2 linked regions of the Homo sapiens genome follow. The protein of the gene in region 1 purifies or fractionates together with the protein of each later gene. This does not show direct contact. Each region holds a gene or a part of one and is shown on either strand. Other genes may lie near its edges.

What was found. Proteins that work in one complex are often made in the same cells at the same time.
Region 2: the proteins of CPLX1 (region 1) and POMP fractionate together in Homo sapiens (co-fractionation; one large-scale study listed by BioGRID). This does not show direct contact.

What each region holds. Positions count from the first base shown.
Region 1 is NC_000004.12:791,611-795,261, forward strand, and holds part of CPLX1 (complexin-1), read right to left. Parts: intron 999-3,651; coding exon 823-998; intron 1-822. UniProt on the Homo sapiens protein: Positively regulates a late step in exocytosis of various cytoplasmic vesicles, such as synaptic vesicles and other secretory vesicles.
Region 2 is NC_000013.11:28,661,981-28,665,631, reverse strand, and holds part of POMP (proteasome maturation protein), read right to left. Parts: intron 3,223-3,651; coding exon 3,125-3,222; intron 1,124-3,124; coding exon 1,063-1,123; intron 1-1,062. UniProt on the Homo sapiens protein: Molecular chaperone essential for the assembly of standard proteasomes and immunoproteasomes. Degraded after completion of proteasome maturation. Mediates the association of 20S preproteasome with the endoplasmic reticulum.

The DNA.
Region 1 (3,651 bases):
AGTCTGAACCTTCCCACCCCGAAGCCAGGCCATCTTGGCCCATCCAGGGCAGGGGACTGAGGCCACCTTCTGGGAAACACAGCTTCCGGCCTGCTGGGCCTGCTGCGGCCCCTACCCTCGGGGCCAGGGCACGGGGTGAGCACTGCGCCCCAGGCAGCACCCCAGGCCCCTTCTACGTGGGATGTGAACATCTCCCACCATGCCCGCTCACCCCTGGCTGGAGACTCCTCCAGGCTGATGTCTGTGCCCACCCGGCTTCCAGCCAGGGCCGTGCTGGAGCCACCGAGGAAGCCGGAGCGGCTGTCGGGACCCAGGCTGCTCCCTGTGCCTCGTGCCCCTCGGACCTGGCCGCTGAGGGGACCGGGCTGAGTGGGAGTGACCTTGCGTGGCTGTCCTGGTGCTGGCAGCCACTCTGGGCCGCCTCGTGAATCCCAGTGGGTGCCCCCCTCCCTGAGTCCTCACTCCAGGCCGGGCTCACCTGAGAGCGCACCCCCCATGCCAGGTGGCCGCCCCACGACCCCTCGGCCCAGGGCCCCAGGCAGCCAGCCAGGCTCCACGCAGGGCTGCGCATCGGAATGCGGGCCTAGGAAGCCCGCCAGGGCTGGCGCTGTGGTCAGGAGCAGGAGGGGCTGGGCCCCACAGAGGGAGCCCAACCCGGAGCCCCCACCCCTCACCCCTCCGCCACTCTGAAGCCCCCAAAGGGTAGGAGGCCCAGGGGGACGCCCGCCCCTCTTCCGGGCAGCCCCTTCCACCCAGGCGGGATCTGGGTCCCCGCTGGACTCAGGGCCGCCTTCCCGCAGGCGGGGCCGGCCCGGCGCGCACCTTGTCTCGGATGCCCTGGCGCACGGCCTCGCGCTCCGCCTCCATCTTGGCGTACTTGGCCTTGCGCTCCTCCTCCGCCTGGCGCAGCGCCTCCTGCCGCTCCTCCTCCTTCTTGGCGGCGTCTGGGTCCTTCTCCTCGTCACCCCCCAGCATCTTCCCCATGTCCTTGGTGGCCCCTGGTACAGAAGTTGGTGATTCAGACCGCCCCATTCAGATGTCCAGGGCCGGGCTAGTGTCTCAGCCACACTCCCCCACCTTCTGGCCGACCCCCCAAACCCTCCATCCACTCGACCCTCTGGCTGCCCCCACCACCCTCCAGCCGCTCCTCCCACCTCCATCTGGCCCTGACCCTCCTGCCCGGGACCCTCCATCCAGTGTGCTGGGGTCTCCTGCTTTGCTTTCTGTTCCTCAAGAGACACAGGCAACTCCGTGGGGGGAGGGAGAGTGGCGCTGTGGTTGCGCGTCTGTATGCACCTGTGTGTGACTGCGTGCTTATGCGTACGTGTGGCTGTTGTGGTTGTGTTTGTGTGTGCACCACGTGGTCGTACATCTGTATGTGGTTCTGTGTTTGTGTCATATGCATGCCTGGCTGTGTGGTTGTGCATGTGTGTGTGGTTGACTGCATGCGGTTGTGTGATCAGGCTTGTCGTCTTGTGGTTGCGCGTGCAGTTGTGTGTGAGCTTCCAGGGGTTGAAGCGTCTTCTCTGGTCATGTGTCCAGCAGAGGCCTGGCCTCCTGGAGGTGGTGCGGTTCAGCCATCTATGCAGGCAGTGGGTTGAGGGGCAGGGCTGGCTGTCAGAGGCAAGGTCACCAAGTCTGACCCCTGGGGCAGAAGCTGGCATGGGGGCTGGCAGGGGCCCTGCTGGGGCAGGAGCTGGCATGGGGGTTGGCAGGGGCCCTGCTGGGGCTGCAGGGGACCGCTTGTTACTGGCACCCAGGCCCTAATTGCTCTGCGGTGCTAGTCACTACTTTTCTCATGAGCTGCTGATTCACAGGCCCCACAAACACCTCCCTAAACAGCTCTGCAACTCAGCCCACAGGACAGATATGCATAATTACGGGCTCTGAATACAGCAGGCACTGCGGGGAGCCCTGGCCCTCGGCAGCTCCAGAGAGCAGAGCAAGCTGGCTGGACCCAGCACACAGGTGTCACTGAGGGAGGTGACTTGGCAGAGCGGCCAGGCTCCTCCATGGCCACTTATAGCCCTCAGCGTTGCAGGGGTGCTCCTGGACCAGCCTCGTGTGTGTGAGGGGACTCTGGCCACACGTTGCCCCTGCAAATGCCGCTCTCCCCCCGCGGCCACCCGGCCCCCTCTCGAGGTGCTCCTCAGTGGTGAGGCACTGGCTCTGCCCCCTCCTTGAAGGTCTTGCCTCTGGGCTCTGCCCCCTGGATGCCAGACCTCCTAAGGACTGCCCCCGACCAGCTGAGCCCATGCCTCGGGTAGAGATGTCAGGTGAAATTGTGGGTTAGACTAACACCACCCAGCCACTTTCCACCTGGGTCCAGGTGTGCCCCCCACCTCGTTTCTGTGGATTCAGCAGCTCCATGTCCCTGGCGCTCTGGGTTCCCCCTCGCCATTACTATGCTGATACCGGGAAGCTCCGTGCTATACGGAGCCTGGGGCGACGCCCTCGCCTGTAGCTATCTGTGCCAGTGCTGCCTCTGCCAGTCACTCAGGAGTGAGCTCCCTGTCGAGGGTGGGCAGGAGCTGTCATTTGGAAGGCCCGAGCTGTTGGTGGGAGGAGAATAGCTTTTTGGTTGAGTGCTCTGGGCTGAAGGTGTCACTCAGACAGGGCCATGCCTGCATCCTGCAGGCGCCGCCGACTGCACCTGTTTCCCTGCCCCCCATATCCTGGCTGTCTGAAGCTATCACAGGCAGTGGGGTGTGGGGAGAACGAGCCCCTCTTGCTGCCCTCGTCGCTGCTGGGGACAGGCAGGCAGCCTATGCTAGGCACTTGGCTGATAGCACAGATCTGGACTCCTCAACAGAAAGCTAAGAGGCTTGTGGTCAGTTTTCAGCCGCATCTGCCATGTTTTGCAAAGCAGATTTTAGGCCCATGACTCAAGGGAAACTGGGTCACAGTAGAGTTGCTCCTGGATTCTTCTAACAGTCCCCAGTCATTGGACCAAAATCTCTCTGCCTCCAGCGGGCTGTCTCTAGCAGGTGTGTGGGGGAGGCAAGGACAGCCCCCACAGTCCTGACTGCCTTTGTGCAAATCTTAACCCCCATGAGAAAAGCTAATTCACCCTAAAGTGAGTGACCCGTGGCTCTTTCTCCCTCCTGGAAAGGACTGGCGTCTATAAGGAGGTGGGTGAGCCTGGTCTCTCCCCACATTGCTCTCCTGATGGAAGGGGTTCCTGGCAGGGGTGGGGAGCTGCAGGGCTTCTGCAGCTCAGTGGGCTGCCCCTTCCCTCCCCTCCAGCTGATCCCATAGGCTCTGGGTCTGGTCGCGGGAGCCGGCATTTATAGAGCACCAGGTGTGCTGCGCTCTGCTCCAGGGGTGCCTGTGGGGGGCCCTCCCGCTCTGAGAGTGTGGAGGCCCCACTTGAGCCCTGGGCTGGTCCAGGCGCCAAAGGCTTCTGGAAGGCCCACCTCTAAGGAGCCGAGGATTCGTGCTCCCCGCAGGCTGCAAAGCCACTAGGCTCAGAGGGACCCGCCGCGAACCTGGGGAGCGTCACAGATGCCGCCCACGCCCCCCCGCTTTTCGGCCCGGGTACTGCAGGGAGGCGCCTCCAGAACCACTTCCAAAAGCTGGGAATTGGGCGCAGCCAGGAGCGCAACAGAAACTGCGGGAAGCTTGTTCCTGGCACAGAAACCCAAAGTGCCA
Region 2 (3,651 bases), on another chromosome or scaffold:
ACCACAGACAATCTTATTTTTTAGTTAGATCCTTTATACAAAAGTGGAATATGTATCCATCTATAACCAATTTTCATTTCTCCCATTAGTTCTCAAAGATGATCAACTGTGCTTTTATAATCATACTCACATACTTATAAGTGTACTCTGGGCTGTCAACTTCTGCACCTGAAACCTGAATTCACTTAAATCGATGAGGAATTTTTTTATTTTTCTCATCTAATTTGAACTTCAATTTCATAATTACATTATTTGTTCTACTCTTTCTTATAGGCAGACCTATCCTCTTATTAGAAAGCGAAACAAACAAACAACAAAAACAAAATACAGATCAGTTTTCTGTTACCTAACAACTGCATCATCTTCCCCAAGTAGTCAGAAACCTTTTTCTTCTTCCTCTAAATGTTTATTTAAGAATCCTTTAAATTGTGTTTTGGACATGTATACATGCTATCCTCTCTTTAGGAGTAAACTTTCTGGTCTAAAACTGTTCAAAGGTCCCTCCTCTTCTATAAAGCCTTCCAAAAAAGCCCTAAGCACAGGTGGCTGTCACATCCTTGGTCTTCTCTAGCATTTTACGAAGCCTTCTCCTACCCACTGCTTGTCTTCCTCATTAAATTTTAAGTTATTTAAGGATGGGGATGATGTCATATTCATCGAAGTACCTACTGTGCCTAGTGGCTGTGTCCTACAGTAACTCGGAGATGCAGGACTTAAAGAGGTCAAAACTAGAGATATGAACTTGGAAGTCAACAGCAAAAATGGCAGGAAAAATATAAAAGAAACAGCATTATTGAAAGAGAAAATTCCTGTGAGAGGAATGGAGAAGTGGATCACCCTTTGGAGACGTACATTAAAAAGGCAGGTAAGAACGCATAGAAAGGGAGCTTTAGAGGAGCAGTGTAATTTTTAAGTCTATCCTACAAGGGGTTTGAAAATAACGCCTCATATTCTTCATGGGCAAATCCTCAGTACCAAAATTGTTTTAATAAAATGAAACCAATATTAGTAAAAGTATTTATCTATTAGAAGATAAAAATAAGGACATAATAATATACTTACATTTTTTTCTGATAATTCAAGGGGATGACTAGGCAAAAGTTCATTTTTCACACAAGAAAAACTGAAAGGACATTAAAAAAAAAACATTTAGAGGAGATTAAATATCACTCAATACCCAGAGCTCAAAATCATATCTATAAAGGGATGGCATGAGAGAGTTTTTTGGGGTGACAAAACTGTTCTGTATCTTGACTGTGGTGACAGTCATAGGAATTGATACATGTGCTAAAAATTCATAGACCTACACACCAAAAGGAAAAAAAAAGGTATATATAATAATGTAAGAATGTATCCATTATAGACATTGGTGGTCAAGACTTCAATCACTAGGGAAAACTTGCCAAAATCTGGTGCCACATCTAGAAGAAATTTAATGAATGTATGTTTATTGCTATTACTCTGATGAGGTACTTCTTGCACTATATAAACTAAGCCTATTCCCTTCAGGTCTAACACTTTCAATATTTAATATATCTTTAATAAACATGTTGAACAATAGGTTTAACATTTACTGAACACCTACTATGTATAAAGTATGTTAGGTAAGGCACAACTAGAACCAGGCCACTGGTCTTTATCACTCTAGCTATATAAAGATGACTACCTTATTATCCAAACTAGGATTTTAAAGCTAATAAAAACCTTAGAAACCCTGCAACAATTGTTTATTGAATATTGTCTTTTTACAAAACATTATCCAGGAAGTGGGTTTTGAAAATGGTCCTGCCCCAGTCCAATCAGGAAGAAGAAGGAACATTTCATGTGGGGGGAAAAAAATCTTCAGACCTTAGTTACTGCCTAGCCAATCAACTTGATTATAAATATCAAATTATATCTCCAATTTCACAGGCTATATGCTGCATTTTTTTACTACAAAACTGAAAGTCTGTAATGAGGGATTATATTTGTACTCAGACACCAGCATTAGAATGCCATTCTATTATAGTAAGAGTAAATTACGGCCAGACGCAGTGGCTCACACCTGTAATCCCAGCACTCTGGGAGGCCAAGGTGTACGGATCACTGGAGGTCAGGAGTTCAAGGCCAGCCTGACCAACACAGAGAAACCCCGTCTCTACTAAAAATACAAAATTAGCCGGGCATGGTGGCACATGCCTGTAATCCCAGCTACTCAAGAGGCTGAGGCAGGAGAATCACTTGAACCCGGGAGGCGGAGGCTGCGATGAGGGGAGATCGCGCCATTGCACTCCAGCCTGGGCAACAAGAGGAAAATGCCATCTCAAAAAATAAATAAATAAACAAAAAATAAGAGTAAATACTTTAAAATTAGATGTAAAATTCAAAAATTCAAAACACAAAATGTTTATGGGGGAAAGGTCGTTATCCTTATTTTATTAAGCAGAAAAGTGACCTGCAAAGAGTATGGTCTAGTACCAGAAACTGAGACCTAAACATACAGAAACAAAAAGGAAATCAAAAACATGGCGTAACTGCATGCTAAAGCTAGAAAAGAAAAAAAATGGTAGCCAATACATACTGAGTGCTTCTAATGTCAGGTACCATTTAAAATATTTTTCAGGTATTAACTCATTTATTCCTCAAAAGAAGATACAGACTATTATTAGGCCTATTCTATCCATAAGGACACTGAGACATTAATTATGTGATTTGTCCAAAGGCACACATCTAGTAAAGAGCAGAGCCACGATCCAAACCCAGGCCGACTGAATCCAGAGTTTAATCTCTCAACTGCTATGTTCTAGTGCCTCCCAAAGAAAAGTGAATTACCCTAATAGTTAAGACAAGAAGGCAAATGGCTAAGTTATCAGTAGCAAAAAAATAAATAAAAAGAATCCTACCAAATCATGCTAATGGGCACCACTGCCTAGGAGGATGCTCTAATTGGGAACCTACTACTTTGATGAGACACCTCTTCCACTACAGAAAATATCTAAGCCTCTTCCCCTCTGCACCCCATGTAAGGTATATTACTTGCCATCTGCCAACTAAATACACATGTATAGCCTATCAAAATACTTAAAGAATATTGTGAAAATTCACAGAAACATAACAAAATCAAAGTCATAACTCCCCCATATACCCTTTCCGAAGAAGATCATGACTTTCAAAAGGTCCACTTGCTGAAAGTTCAGTAACTGGAATACTGTCCTTTAGCTCAGATCCAAGTCCTCTGGCATTCTACAACACAAATAAAAAACATTATTAAATAGAAAAAAAATTTAAACACACACCCAGGCAGCTGTGTCAAAAATATTGTTTAAGTAGGAGACAGAAAAATAAGAGGCCCTCAAAAAGTCCAGACTAGACAATTACAGCAAGCCTTAAACATTATGATATGATAGAGACACACATGGTACAATGAAAATACCAAATTTAGATGTGGGAAGGATTCCTGAGGTGATCTCTGAATGCTGTCAGTTTGAAAGGCATTCCAGGAAAAAATAACATGAATAAAGGCAAGAAAATATAAATGAACAAGCTTCAGGTAGTTTGAGATAACTGGCTAAATATGTTTCCAGTGAGGCAGAAGTAAAGGCTGATGAAATACAAAAGTGAAACATCTTATGTGCAAAGAAATATGGGTTTTATTCCAAAACTGAAAGCCTC